Linked DNA regions of Homo sapiens. The protein of the gene in region 3 purifies or fractionates together with the protein of the main gene of each other region. This does not show direct contact. Each region holds a gene or a part of one and is shown on either strand. Other genes may lie near its edges.

Region 1 (3,500 bases), on a different chromosome or scaffold from region 3:
CTCCCCTTATCCTTTCTGATAAATTTGAGAATCATTTTGACAACCACCAAATATTATTCAAATTAGGATTTTTTTTCTTTTTTTCTTTTTTTTTTTTTTTGAGACAGAGTCACGCTCTGTTGCCCAGTGGCGAGATCTCAGCTAACTGCAACCTCTGCCTCCTGGGTTCAAGTGATTCACCTGCCTCAGCCTCCCGAGTAGCTGGGATTACAGGCGCCCACCACCACGCCCGGCTAATTTTTTTGTAGTTTTAGTAGAGACAGGGTTTCACCATGTTGGCCAGACTGGTTTTGAACTCCTGACCTCAAGTGATCCGCCCACCTCGGCCTCCCAAAGCGCTAGGATTACAGGTGTGAGCCACTACGCCTGGCCCACATTAGGATTTCTAATGTCACTGCAATGACTGCAATAACTAGGGGTAAATCCATAATTTTACATTTCTGACATAGGAACACGACATCTGTTTACTGAAATCTTCTACATCTCTCAGTACAGATTTGTAGTTTCTCTATATAGGCCCTGTGTACTTCTTTTAAAATGTTAGTTTTTTATTTTTTATATGTCACATTACTTTCTGAATGAGATCTTTTCTTCCTATTACATGATCTGTTTCTTTCAGATACACAGGAATACTACATTTATTTTTGTATATTTACTTTGTAATTAATCACCAAACTGAACTTTCCATTTAGGATGTCTTAGTCTTTATTCTCTTGGATTTTCCATTATTTGCTAATAATAATCATTTATCTCCTCCAACATTCATACCTCATCTTTTCCTTCCTGTTTGGTCTTATAGCAATGACTGTAACTTCTAGAACACTTTTCAATAGTTGTGATGGAATGCCTTTTTTGCTTTCTTCATGATTTTAATAAAACAACAGCCAAGAAACAGTAGGACTTAGATGGAATTGAGGATCAATTTTATTCTGGTTTATATACTAAGCAATGAGACTGGGGCAACAGTAGAAAAATCAGAATATGGGAGACTCAGGGTTTAAAAATATCATGGGGCCGGGCACGGTGGCTCATGCCTGTAATCCCAGCATTTTGGGAGGCTGAGGTGGGCAGATCACTTGAGACCAGGAGTTTGAGACCAGCCTGGGTGACAGAAAGATACTCTGTCTCAAAGAAACAAAAAAACAAAACAAACAAACAAACAAAAATCATGGGTCAAGGGAGAAGAAAATCTATAGTTGTCATCAAGGCAGCAAGATACCCATAGACTTGAAGCTGGTGATTATTATTAAGCGGGGGCTAAGGGCTACCCCAATCAAGCCCTACTTATGCTTAGTGTGGTTTGCAAATAATAATAAAAAAAAACCACAACTACCTTAATTCTCTAAACACACAGAAATGATTTACAGGTCACCAGATGACTGAATAGGTAAAATAACAACTCAATATTCCTTGAATAACTCACAGTAGTTATAGCTGAAAGAATGTAAACTATCAATTTGGCAAGGCTTACACTGTGTTCTAAGTTTAAATTCCAGCTTACTATAATCACAACATCACTTTTATCACCAATGTTTTTTACTTTGCCCTCAAATAAACTTACAACTGGCTTATACAAATAAGAACAGGGTTTTCAATATTTAAGAAGGATTTAAAAACATTTAAGTATAGAAACAGAATGGTCAAATTTTACTTCCACTATTTATAAAGGAATTTTTAGCAACAAAGCATAGAGAATTTTTTTAAAGCAATCTACTCTTCACTTGGAACCAGATAGCAGGTATTGTTTAATCCCTCTTCTAAAAATTCTATACACCATAATTCAAAATTTAAACATCTTCATTTACAGTGTGCTCAGGAAGTATCTCATCTCATCTCTCTTTTTTCCCCACCAAATTTCAGACAGATGTTTAGTGGCTTTTTCTTTTCAAAATCAGTATATATTTCATTTTTTTTTTTTTAAAGAAATAGCCCCGTGTGGTAGCTCTAGCTCATGCCTGTAATCCCAGCACTTTGGGAGGCCGAGGTGGTTGTATCTCTTGAACCCAGGAGTTTGAGACCAGCCTGGGCAACATGGCAAGACCCGCCTCTCTACAAAAAATACAAAAATTAGCTGGGTGTGGTGGTGCACACCTGTGGTGCCAGCGACTTGGGAGACTGAGAAGTGGGATGATCACTTGAACCCAGGAGGTCGAGGCTGCAGTGAGCGGTGATTGTACCACTGCCCTTCAGCCTGGGTGACAGGGTGATATCCTGTCTCAGAAAAAAAAAAAAAAAAGAAAGAAAGAAAGAAAAAAAGAAAAAAACCTATTACATATACAACTTATTTTGCTTTTGAAACAGAGTTCTCACTCTGTCATCCAGCTGGAGTGCAGTGGTACAATCTCTGCTCACTGCAACCTCTGCCCCCCAGGCTCAAGCCATCCTCCCACCTCAGCCTCCTGAGTAGCTGGGACCACAGGCATGCACCACCATGCTCAGCTAATTTTTTGTATTTTTAGTAGAGACGGAATCTTGCCATGTTGCCCAGGCTGGTCTCAAACTTCTGAGCTCAAGTAACCTGCCCACCTCAGCCTCCCAAAGTGTTGGGATTAAAGGCGTGAGTCACCACACCTGGCCTATATATGCAACTCTTTAAAAGTAGCATTATAAAACTAGATTTATTGGGAGGCTGAGGCGGGTGGATCACCTGTGGTCAGGAGTTCGAGACCAGCCTGGCCAACGTGGTGAAACCCCATCTCTAAAAAAACATAAAAAATTAGCTGGGTGTGGTGGCAGGTGCCTGTAATCCCAGCTACTTCGGAGGCTGAGGCAGGAGAACCACTTGAACTCAGGAGGCGGAGGTTGCAGTGAGCCAAGATCGTGCCATTGCACTCCAGCCTGGGCAACAAGAGCAAAACTCCGTCTCAAACAAACAAACAAAAAACAAAACAAAACAAAACAAAAAACTAGATTTAAATGACACCCTGGACTTTTTACATGGAAGTGGGAAGACATTTTAGAAGCAATGAAATTATATTCCTAAATTTAAAACCAATAAAGTAGGCAGAGGGTACACACATATTTCTCTCTCCCTCTAAATACATAATTTATGTACATCCCTAAACTTTGAGGAACACACAGGTTTCCCACGTTGTCTTCCACTTTGATGGCTACACCACGGTGAGCTCACAGCTCAGCAAACATTTAGCAGGGATACTAAACTCTTCTTTTTAGAGACAATTCCAGATCTTTGAATTTGTCCTGTCTTGAATTCAGGGCAAGATAAGCATCTCCTCCCCACCCCTAACCTTGCCCCCTTGCCTGGGAAAGACGGCAGGGCAAAGCTGTTCAGCTGTCTACTAGGCTGACAACTCACAACTGGGAATGAGAAGTTAATGGGCTAGGTGATGTTTGGGATAGCGGGACTAGTTAGTTCTATACCATTTAATAAGCTCTGAAAGAGGTGCGTGGACCCAATTATTGGTGGGGATATATATAACCTTCTTTAGTCTTAGTTTTGGACATTAGGTGTCAATTTTAAGGAAAAAGAAGTCTCAGTA
Region 2 (3,500 bases), on a different chromosome or scaffold from region 3:
GCAATAGACACTGCAGAGTACTGGCCGGGGGTGAGTTGAAAAACTACCATTGGGGCCAGGTGCGGTGGCTCACGAGGTCAGGAGATCAAGACCATCCTGGCCAACGTGGTGAAACCCCATCTCTACTAAAATATAAAAAAAAATTAGCCGGGCGTGGTGGTGCATGCCTGTAGTCCCACCTACTCAGGAGGCTAAGGCAGGGGAATCGCTTGAACCCAGGAGGCAGAGGTTGCAGTGAGCCAAGATCACGCCACTGCACTCCAGCCTGGCAACACAGCGAGACTCCATCTCAAAAAAAAAAAAGAAAAACTACCATTGGGTACTATGCTCACTACCTGGGTGTAATATACTATGTAACAAATCAGCACATGTACTTCCTGTATCTGAAATAAAAGTTGAACTTAAAAAAGGTATGGCATTTAGAACAAACACAGCCAGGTGCAGTGGCTTTCCTTTGTAAACCCAACACTCAGGGAGACTGACGCAGGAGAACTGCTTGGAGGGCCAGGAGTTTCAGACCAGCCTATGCAACATACTGAGACTCCAAATGTACAAAAATACTTTAAAAATTAGCCGGGTATGGTGGCAGATGCCTGTAGTCCCAGCTACTCAGAGGCTGAGGTGGGAGGATTGCTTGTGCCCAGGAGGTCGTGGCTGCAGTGAACTGTTATTGCACCACTGCAGTCCAGCCTAAGTGTTAGAGTGAAATGCTGTCTCCAGAAAGAAGAAGAAACATAAACAGAGATAAAAAGTGAAAAATGAACACCTCCCAAAACAGGAAGAATATAAGGTTATTTATCTCCCCAAGACCACTTGCCCTATTTTGAGGGTTCCAAGATCAAGATGAAAAACTCTTAACTTATTCAAGAATTGAAGGAACTGCAGAGACAGCTTTTCCAGTGGAAAGAACCAAAGCCTAAGTCAGACCTGGGTGTACATCCCCAAGGCTCTCCTCTCATTCTCCTCATGGCTTCATTCGAGTTATTTTTTCATAGGCAAAATATGGTTATTTCACCTATCTCAGTGTAACCCAAGTGTACCTGATCATAAAAATAATCTGGAGTGCTTGTTAAAAACCATTAAAGGTTCCCACGTCTCATCCTAAGAGGGAGACTGGGAGAATGTAGCCTAACAAGCACCCCAGGTGAGTCTCATAAGACCAGTTGTGCAAACACTGTTTTACCTTAGTCATTTCCATAGAGAAAAATTAAATTTATGATGTGGATGAAGAAGGCATATTGAACATCTCTGTCAGTAAATACTTTGGAGACTTCTGTCTCTCACTTACATTTTGCTGTAGCTTACAAAAGCATTTATTTGGATGATTCCTCAGCAAGCCCTGAACTCTCACCCATGATCCAATCCTTGGAAGCCACTCTCAAGAAAGATTTTCAATGGTTTCCTAACTGCCAGATTCACTCCCCTCATCAGGCCTGTCTTCACAAAAGCCACCGTTGTGGCCAGCTCCTCATTCTGGACATTTTTCTTTCCTGGTTTCTACAGGACCAGTCCCTCCTGGGTCCTCATCTATCATTCTTTTTTTTTTTTTTTGGGGGGACGGAGTCTTGCTCTGTCGCCCAATGGTACGATCTCTGCTCAATGGCAACCTCCGCCTCCCAGGTTCAAGCGATTCTCCTGCCTCAGCCTCCCAAGTAGCTGGGATTACAGGTGCCCACCACCATGCCCAGCTAATTTTTGTATTTTTTAGTAGAGGTGGGGGTTCACCATGTTGGCCAGGCTGGTCTCGAGCTCCTGACCTCAGGTGATCTGCCCGCTTCAGCCTCCTAAAGTGCTGGGATTATAGGCGTGAGCCACCGTGCCCGGCCTCACCTATCATCCTTATAGTTTTCTATCTATAGAGCAGGCATTTTCCTGTTTGTACTACATGTTCTACCTAGATGGTCAATGTCTACAGCTTCACCTCCATCTATAGTATGACAGCCCCCAAACCTGTACAGGATTTATAGTTCACCATCTCTCCCCTATCCTAGTTCTGCATCTTCAGCAGGATCTACTTGTTATCACCATAACAGGCTCAGGAAACTTCTTTCCCACAATCTATTCCTGCCACTTAAAAGGGTAGCCATCCATCCTATTACCTAACATTTAAATCAGACATCAACTCTTTGTGCTCCCTCATCCTCTACATTTAAACAACAGCCATGTACTCTTAATTCTATTTCTGAAGCTTCTCTTAAATCTTTTCTGGCTGGGCACGGTGACTCACCCCTGTAATCCCAGCACTTTGGGAGGCCAAGGCGGATGGATCACCTGAGATCAGGAGTTCAAGACCAACCCGGCCAACATGGTGAAACCCTATCTCTACTAAAAATACAAAAGTAAGCCGGGTGTGATGGCATGCACCTGTAATCCCAGCTAATTGGGAGAGGCTGAGACAGGAGAATCACTTGAACCTGGGAGGCGGAGGTTGCAGTAAGCTAAGATTGCACCACTGCACTCCAGCCTGCACGACAGAGCGAGACTCCGTCTCAAAAAAAAAAAAAAAAAAAATCTTTGCCTTCTTCATTACCACAGCTCTTGCTCTAGAAGATTCTCATTTCTCATCAGAACACCTTAAAATGCTTTCTAACACATTTTCCTGCCTCAGGTTTCTTTCCCCTCTCTTCTTCCCACAGTTTTGTTTCTGTAATAGAGATCTGATAAACTTCCAAGGTTCCCTGTGCCCACTGAAAAAGAAAGGTCACACTGCTTGGTGTGGCACATAAAGCCTTTCACAATTTGGTTTCGGTGTACTTTCCTAATCTCATTTTTCTGCCTCTTGTACCAGCCCAACCCTCTCTCCCCTCTCCTTCCCAGCTCCACACTCCCCCCTTTCCATGGGGTGAACTTTTCAAAAGTTCTCTTGTCTATATTTTCCTCCATGTCTTAAATTATTCCACCTGCCAAATGAACACTGTGTATAATAAATTCTCCCATCTTTAGAGGAAATACTTAAGAACCAATCAAAATATTCAACATTTCTTGAAAGAACTGTAATTACTATATAAGGTTTTATATAATTCTAGTTCAAAGCAAAGGAACTTCACTTTTTAATGTACCTTCTATTAAATATTTAATTTCCATTAGGTTATTTTAAAATACTGGCAGTCTCATGGATCCCCATTTTTATCTTTGCAGATCTGTAGGGGTCCTGGAGCCCTGGCTTAGGAACCACTGCTCTGTGCTCACTGTACAAACTCCCTGCTCTGTGCCCTTGCTCACACTATTCTGTTGCCTACACTGTCCTTGATATTTTTCTCATTCCGGGACTCAATAACTTGCCACTTCCATTCTTTTCACTCACACTACTTTTATGTCACTTATTATCCATTCGAGGATAGTTAATTCTTTAACACAATGATCTGTCAGGCTTGGAGCTTCCTACGGAAAAGACATTTATCTACTCTCAGGGCCTAGCAGTACCTGGGCCCCAGTAAAACTAAATAAATGTTTGTTGAATGAATAAACCTTGGTAGGACAAACATATTATCTACACAAAA
Region 3 (3,178 bases):
CTGAAATGATTATGTTATCCTGAAACAGTGCTCTGGCCTCCTTTGCTGGGTTTTATTATGGTATTTCTTTGATTTTGGAGACACAAGCCCTAGACTAGCAGAATGAAGCATTATTATTACTTAGCTACTTAAATCCCAGACTTATTCTTTCCAAAATTGATGTAAACAGAACAGAAATATCCTTCAAACCTGGATTTCTTGCCTCAGTTCAATACTATCTGTTAAAGTAGCTTCAGACAGAATTGAGAAAATATCTGTGCTCCTCGTCTTTAACACTGTTGGTCTGAAGTAATAGATATTCCTCAGTTAAACTGTCTAAACTCTCAACACTTCATTCCTTGTCAATTAAACAATGTAACTTGATGCTCATTTTCATTCTTTTTGTCTTAGAACATTTTCCATTTTCCCTGATTAGGCCAAATCTATGTGATTCTGAGTATTTGGTGCTAGATGTTTAAAAAAAAAAAAAAGAACCCAAGATATCTAATTGTCTAATGAAATCCAGTCCTTCAAAACATGTGGATACATTTTACAGGATTCCAAAAGCTCCAAGGACAAGATGAACATATCTCCAAATTAAGGCAAAAGTTGAGAAGGCAAGTTGATATATACCATCTCCTTTGAGACCATTCTCCCTTATTCCTCATTTTATACTATTAGAATATTGAGCAAGCTGAAGGTAAGAGAAGCTAGTAAGCATTCCACAAGGAAGAAGGATTTCTAGCATTCTACAGGAGTCTGGATTGGGGGAAAAAAGAAAAATAACACTTTATGACAGGACTGGGCTTTGCACAATCCGGTCCTATTTGGCTTCATGGCTGACTAATGAAAATTAAATCTCTGAGTATACCGAGAGCCCAGATTTTTAAATTCTGTTATTTTATGTCAAGCCAGGACACAGAAGGACCATAAACACTAAAATGAGAGTTCTTAATACCAGTAAAATTTGTTCATGGTGCATTTGTTCTGTGAAGTCTTCTCTGACCCCTCTACTCCTCTGGACTCGTCTAAAGCCACACTACTCACACGGTTCTCTGCCTGAGCTCAACAGTATCAGCAGCATGTGCTGGAGTCACAGAAGCTCAGTATGAAATCCTGCCTCTACCACCTGTTTCCTACCTGATCATAGAAGAGTCACTTAAACTCCCTTCGTCATCCTTTTCTTATCTTTGAAAATAGTAAAACATAGTTTTAAGAGTAGCTAGGAGAAGAGATACTGTGCACCGTGTAAATTTTCAGATATATAATTGATGTTCAATATTGCCATGCTGCTTACTATTGTAATTTGTTTCTCTCTTTGTAAGTCACGTGCAGACCAAACTATAGATCAACATATTCTCAGAATGTAAGGAAGTGTTGGGTGTTCAATATTATTTTACCGATTGGTTAAATGATGATTGGTAGCTATAGACCAGTTACAGAGTTCTGTTTCATTTCCCCTGCAGGTGACTGAAGATGAACCCTGAAAACTGGACTCAGGTAACAAGCTTTGTCCTTCTGGGTTTCCCCAGTAGCCACCTCATACAGTTCCTGGTGTTCCTGGGGTTAATGGTGACCTACATTGTAACAGCCACAGGCAAGCTGCTAATTATTGTGCTCAGCTGGATAGACCAACGCCTGCACATACAGATGTACTTCTTCCTGCGGAATTTCTCCTTCCTGGAGCTGTTGCTGGTAACTGTTGTGGTTCCCAAGATGCTTGTCGTCATCCTCACGGGGGATCACACCATCTCATTTGTCAGCTGCATCATCCAGTCCTACCTCTACTTCTTTCTAGGCACCACTGACTTCTTCCTCTTGGCCGTCATGTCTCTGGATCGTTACCTGGCAATCTGCCGACCACTCCGCTATGAGACCCTGATGAATGGCCATGTCTGTTCCCAACTAGTGCTGGCCTCCTGGCTAGCTGGATTCCTCTGGGTCCTTTGCCCCACTGTCCTCATGGCCAGCCTGCCTTTCTGTGGCCCCAATGGTATTGACCACTTCTTTCGTGACAGTTGGCCCTTGCTCAGGCTTTCTTGTGGGGACACCCACCTGCTGAAACTGGTGGCTTTCATGCTCTCTACGTTGGTGTTACTGGGCTCACTGGCTCTGACCTCAGTTTCCTATGCCTGCATTCTTGCCACTGTTCTCAGGGCCCCTACAGCTGCTGAGCGAAGGAAAGCGTTTTCCACTTGCGCCTCGCATCTTACAGTGGTGGTCATCATCTATGGCAGTTCCATCTTTCTCTACATTCGTATGTCAGAGGCTCAGTCCAAACTGCTCAACAAAGGTGCCTCCGTCCTGAGCTGCATCATCACACCCCTCTTGAACCCATTCATCTTCACTCTCCGCAATGACAAGGTGCAGCAAGCACTGAGAGAAGCCTTGGGGTGGCCCAGGCTCACTGCTGTGATGAAACTGAGGGTCACAAGTCAAAGGAAATGATCTTATTAAATGGGAGATTAAATGTTTATTGAAAATTTTTTAAATGTGCAAGAAGTTTAAGGGATGTAGGCAACACTGTTCACTTTTCTCAGCTAATGAAAGAACAGTCTTCATAAATATACAACATGAAATACGGTGGTAAACCTTCATTTTCCCTCCCTACAACCTTCCTTGTGCCTCCTCCTCCCCACAGAGAAGGCTGATCCAATTGGTCAAATTTCTTTCAAGATGGAATCCTTGGATTGGAGAGCATGTGTGAGCACGTGACCCGCATACAGGGAGGCTCCTCCTTCTCTTCGTGTGTGCTTAAACACTTTTCTTACTGCCTCAGTCTCCTGTGTCATGTAGCCAATCAGAAGATGCTGAAATATGGAGATTCAGATTTGGAGCTCAGTGGGGAGTAAGAGGGTCTCTGAGGTCTTCCAACTAGACTGGGTACTGCAAATAAAATTAACCAGAACCTCTGTATTATTAGAAAATCAAATTCTGGCTGCAGTAATAAATGGTTCTCTGATTTGCATTTGTTATTGCTCCTTATGTAACTAGCAGCTCCTATAGGAATCTCATAAAGGAAGAATGTTAAGACCAGTGAAATATTTGGATAGCCCTAATTCCTAAGTCAAACTCTACTAACAAACTCAAATATGGCAACAAACTGAAATATGGCAACACTCATTTAATCATTCCTTTAAGAAATATTATTAAATCTCTAATATGGCAAGGCTCCAACTAGGGTGAGCCAAGGAAGATG
Region 4 (4,252 bases), on a different chromosome or scaffold from region 3:
AAGGCAGGCAGATCACTTGAGGTCAGGAGTTCGAGACCAGCCTGGCCAACATAGTGAAACCCCGAGTTGGGATGAGTATTTAAAGTGAGCGAGCGTAGAAATACTATGCTCAGCCAAGTGAGTACTTAACGAAATGAGTGTAGAAGGCTGGGGGAGGTGGCTCACGCCTGTAATCCCAGCACTTTGGGAGGCTGAGGGGGGCGGATCACCTGAGGTTGGGAGTTCGAGACCAGCCTGACCAAAAAGGAAAAATCTTGTTTCTACTAAAAATACAAGATTAGCTGAGTGTGGTGGTGTATGCCTGTAATCCCAGCTACTCGGGAGGCTGAGGCAGGAGAATCGCTTGAACCCAGGAGGCAGAGGTTGCAGTGAGCTGGAGATCACGCCATTGCACTCCAGCCTGGGCAACAAGAGCGAAACTCTATCTCAAAAAAAAAAAAAAAAAAAAAAGTAAGTGTAGAAATACACCTATAGCAGGACACAGTGGCTCACGCCTGTAATCCAAGCACTTTAGGAGGCCAAGCCGGACAGATCACTTGAGTTCGGGAGTTCAAGACCAGCCTGGCCAACATGGTGAAACCCCATCTCTACTAAAAATACAAAAATCAGCAGGATGTGGTGGTGCATGCCTGTAATCCTAGCTACTTGAGAGGCTGAGGCAGGAGAATCACTTGAACCCTGGAGGTGGAGGTTGCAGTCAGCCTGGAGCCACTGCACTCCAGCCTGGGCGATAGAGCGAGACTCCGTCTCAAAAAAAAAAAAAAAGAAAAAAGAAAAGAAATACTAATATAGCATTCCAACTTGTAAGCTTCAAATGATGTGGCAATGATTTTCATTTCCTTTTCTATTTCTTTTTTTTTCTTTTTTTTTTTTTTTTTTTTTTTTTTTTAGCAACAATGTCTTTTTCTTTCACCCAGGCTGGAGTGCAGTGGCATGATCACAGGTCACTGTAGTCTTGACCTGGCTTCAAGCAAACCCCCCATCTCAGCAGCGAGTAGCTGGGACTACTGGCCTGCTAGCCAGGGCCCTGCACCCAGCAAATTTTTTTTTTTTTAATGTAGAGACTGGGTCTTGCTATGTTGCCCAGGCTGATTTTCATTTCTGTTAGACTCATCTTTTTTCTTAATTCTTGCTTGAATTTCTATTCCAGTACAATAATGCAAGTCAAAGGAAGGTTAAAATATACCTTATTTAAACTGCTAATCTTTGTAATTACTGACAGTGCATCTCTGACATTTCTAAAATGAAGACACCTTCCTTTTCTACAAACTCAGAAAATGCCAATGAACTATCTTAACATTTTTTAAGTTCAAAACATTTTGGTGACAGACACAAGTCTACTGAAAGGTATAATAGTAGATAATCATGTTGCTTTGCTATACTGGCACCACCATTTATTTGTCATCTGTAAAATGACAGCTAGTGCCTTACTCATAGTAGTCAATAAATGTTCCTTTTCTTTCCTTCTTTCATTGTTTCAATGTGACCTACTCTTCACTGATACTTTAACACGGAATATAGGACGTCTTCAAAGACACTTAGTAATATAGAGGCTGATGTAAGAACACACAAATAAATAATACTATGTTTAATTTTTCAAGTTAAAAGGACTTCTTCACCTCATTTTGTCCACTGTACCAAACACCTTAAATTGCTGACGAATTTGGTTCTTTCAGCTAACAATGTCAAAGTTTTAGCTGTTTTAAAACAAATCTTCTTGGAAAAGCTTCAACACCTTAAAAATCAGTACAGTGGCCCACTGAGGTGGCTCATGCCTTTAATCCCAGCACTTTGGGAGGCCGAGGCGAGCAGATCACCTGAGGTCAGGAGTTGGAGACCAGACTGGCCAACATAGAGAAATCCCATCTCTACTAAAAATAGAAAAGTTAGACCGGATGCGGTGGCTCACGCCTATAATCCCAGCACTTTGGGAGGCCGAGGCAGGCGGATCACGAGGTCAGGAGATAAGAGACCATCCTGGCTAACACGGTGAAACCCCATCTCTACTAAAAAATACAAAAAAATTAGCGGTGCGTGGTGGCGGGCACCTGTAGTCCCAGCTACTCGGGAGGCTGAGGCAGGAGAATGGCGTGAACCCGGGAGGCGGAGCTTGCAGTAAGCCGAGATCGTGCCACTTCACTCCAGCCTGGGCGACAAGAGGGAAACTCTGTCTCAAAACAACAACAAAAATTTAAAAAATTAAAACAAAAATCAGTACAGTTTTCTCAACAGTGTATCTTTTTTCCACTTAACTGGGACTTTGGGCTACGGAAAACGTTAACCAGTACTAGTAAGGAAGCTCAATTTGCCTCTACACTAATTGGGAGCGCTGAAAACACCAGGCCGTGTCACAGCCTCTTCAGCTGTCAGTGAGACCCGCCACCTTCACCTTACCAGGTAAGGAAACTGAGGCCCAGGGGAAGGAAGGGGCTTGCCTGCAGCCACCTCGTTCTTTCCTGAAAAGACCAAGCGTCTGACAGCAGCAGTGTTCTGCCTCGAGGGCTATCAGACGGCCCCGCGGAGCATGGATGAGACCTGTCCTCCCTCGCGCCGCCTAACCCCGGGGTGAAAAACAGGCGCCCCTTCACGCAGTGCCACAGGCAGGGACTCAGAGTAGGTCTTGGCCCTAAAAGTGCGCCTTCTAGGGGATCCATAGCTGCTGCCCACCGGTCCTCCCAGAAGGAGGGGCTGTCACTCACCTGCGACTGGAGGGAACGCAATCCCCTACTTGGCGTTGGCCGTACACCAGGAGACCGAACTGCAAAGCGCGATGGCTGCCGTGGCCCCAGTTCGCATCAGCCCCTTCCGGGCCGGCGGGTGCCTCACTAGCGACAGTCCGCAGGACCGCGTCGCCGAGCGCCCTAGGTTCCGCCTCCTGGCAGTCTTGCCGCCAATTCCCCAGTTGAGCGAGGCTGCTCGCAACCCCTAACACCGCCTGGGTCTCCCAGCCGCCTGGTCTCCCCACACCCGCCCGCCCGAAGGGATTTTAGGGGCCTGCGTGCCGAGAAAGGAACACCCCATGCCTCCCTAGGGGAAATTACTTTTGGCATTTTTTTTTTTTGAGACGTTGTCTCGCTCTGTCTCCCAGGCTGGGGTGCAGTGGCACGATCTCGGCTCACTGCAGCCTCCACCCCCTGGATTCAAGAGATTCTCCTACCTCAGCCTCCCCAGTAGCGGGGACTACAGGCACCCGCCACCACTGTCCGGCTAATTTTTTTTTTTTTTGAAACGGAGCCTCGATTTTGTCGCCCAGGCTGGAGTGCAATGGCGCGATCTCAGCTCACTGTAACCTCCGCCTCCCGGGTTCAAGCGATTCTTCTACCTCAGCCTCCTGAGTAGCTGGGAGCACAGGCGCGCACCACCATGCCCGGCTAATTTTTGTATTTTTAGTAGAGACGGGGTTTCACCATGTTGGCCAGGCTGGTCTCGAACTCTTGACCTAAAGTGAACCGCCCGCCTCGGCCTCCCAAAGTGCTAGGATTACAGGCGTGAGCCACTGCGCCCGGCTAATTTTTGTATTTTTAGTAGAGACCGGGTTTCATCATGTTGGCCAGGCTGGTCTCAAACTCCCTAGCATAAGTGATCCACCTGCCTCAGCCTCCCAAAGTGCTGGGATCACCACCGCGCCCTGCCTAAAATACATTTTCAAAGTACACGTGCTTATTGAATTCATTTTTTTTTCTTTTTTTGTTATTTGTGCTTATTGAATTCACCAGTGATTTACACAATGTAGCTACGTACCAGATAATGTGTTGGATGCTGGTTATTCAGCTTTTATTCAGCTGGTTATTCAGTTGTTTTATAGACGGTCTTGGCCAGGCGCGGTGGTTCACACCTGTAATCTCAGCACTTTGGGAGGTCAAGGTGGGTGAATCACCTGAGGTTAGAGTTCAAGACCAGCCTGGCCAACATGGTGAAACCCCATCTCTACAAAAATACGAAAATTACCCAGGCATGATGGCAGGTGCCTGTAACGCCAGCTACTCGGTAGGCCGAGGCAGGAGAATTGCTTGAACCCGGGAGGTGGAGGTTGCAGTGAGCCGAGATTGCACCATTGCACTCTAGCCTGGGCGACAGAGCGAGACTCTGTCTCCGTCTCAAAAAATAAATAAATTAATTAAATTAAAAATAAATTTAAAAATTATATATATATATAGACGGTCTTGCTCTTTCTCCCAGGCTGGAGTCCAGTGGTGCTATCATAGCTCACTGCAGCCTCAATCTCTTGGGCTCAAGGAATCCTCCCATGTAG

Evidence for each region. Proteins that work in one complex are often made in the same cells at the same time.
Region 1: the proteins of OR6T1 (region 3) and MBTPS2 purify together in Homo sapiens (affinity purification with mass spectrometry; one large-scale study listed by BioGRID and IntAct). This does not show direct contact.
Region 2: the proteins of OR6T1 (region 3) and EIF2AK3 purify together in Homo sapiens (affinity purification with mass spectrometry; one large-scale study listed by BioGRID and IntAct). This does not show direct contact.
Region 4: the proteins of OR6T1 (region 3) and SAR1B purify together in Homo sapiens (affinity purification with mass spectrometry; one large-scale study listed by BioGRID and IntAct). This does not show direct contact.

Annotation. Positions count from the first base shown.
Region 1 is NC_000023.11:21,863,617-21,867,116, reverse strand, and holds part of MBTPS2 (membrane-bound transcription factor site-2 protease), read right to left. Parts: intron 1-3,500. UniProt on the Homo sapiens protein: Zinc metalloprotease that mediates intramembrane proteolysis of proteins such as ATF6, ATF6B, SREBF1/SREBP1 and SREBF2/SREBP2.
Region 2 is NC_000002.12:88,617,465-88,620,964, forward strand, and holds part of EIF2AK3 (eukaryotic translation initiation factor 2-alpha kinase 3 isoform 1 precursor), read right to left. Parts: intron 1-3,500. UniProt on the Homo sapiens protein: Metabolic-stress sensing protein kinase that phosphorylates the alpha subunit of eukaryotic translation initiation factor 2 (EIF2S1/eIF-2-alpha) in response to various stress, such as unfolded protein response (UPR).
Region 3 is NC_000011.10:123,942,116-123,945,293, reverse strand, and holds OR6T1 (olfactory receptor 6T1), read left to right. Parts: upstream 1-1,455; coding exon 1,456-2,427; downstream 2,428-3,178. UniProt on the Homo sapiens protein: Odorant receptor.
Region 4 is NC_000005.10:134,630,029-134,634,280, forward strand, and holds the start of SAR1B (small COPII coat GTPase SAR1B), read right to left. Parts: upstream 2,801-4,252; 5' UTR 2,700-2,800; intron 2,172-2,699; exon of another isoform or gene 2,049-2,171; intron 1-2,048. UniProt on the Homo sapiens protein: Small GTPase that cycles between an active GTP-bound and an inactive GDP-bound state and mainly functions in vesicle-mediated endoplasmic reticulum (ER) to Golgi transport.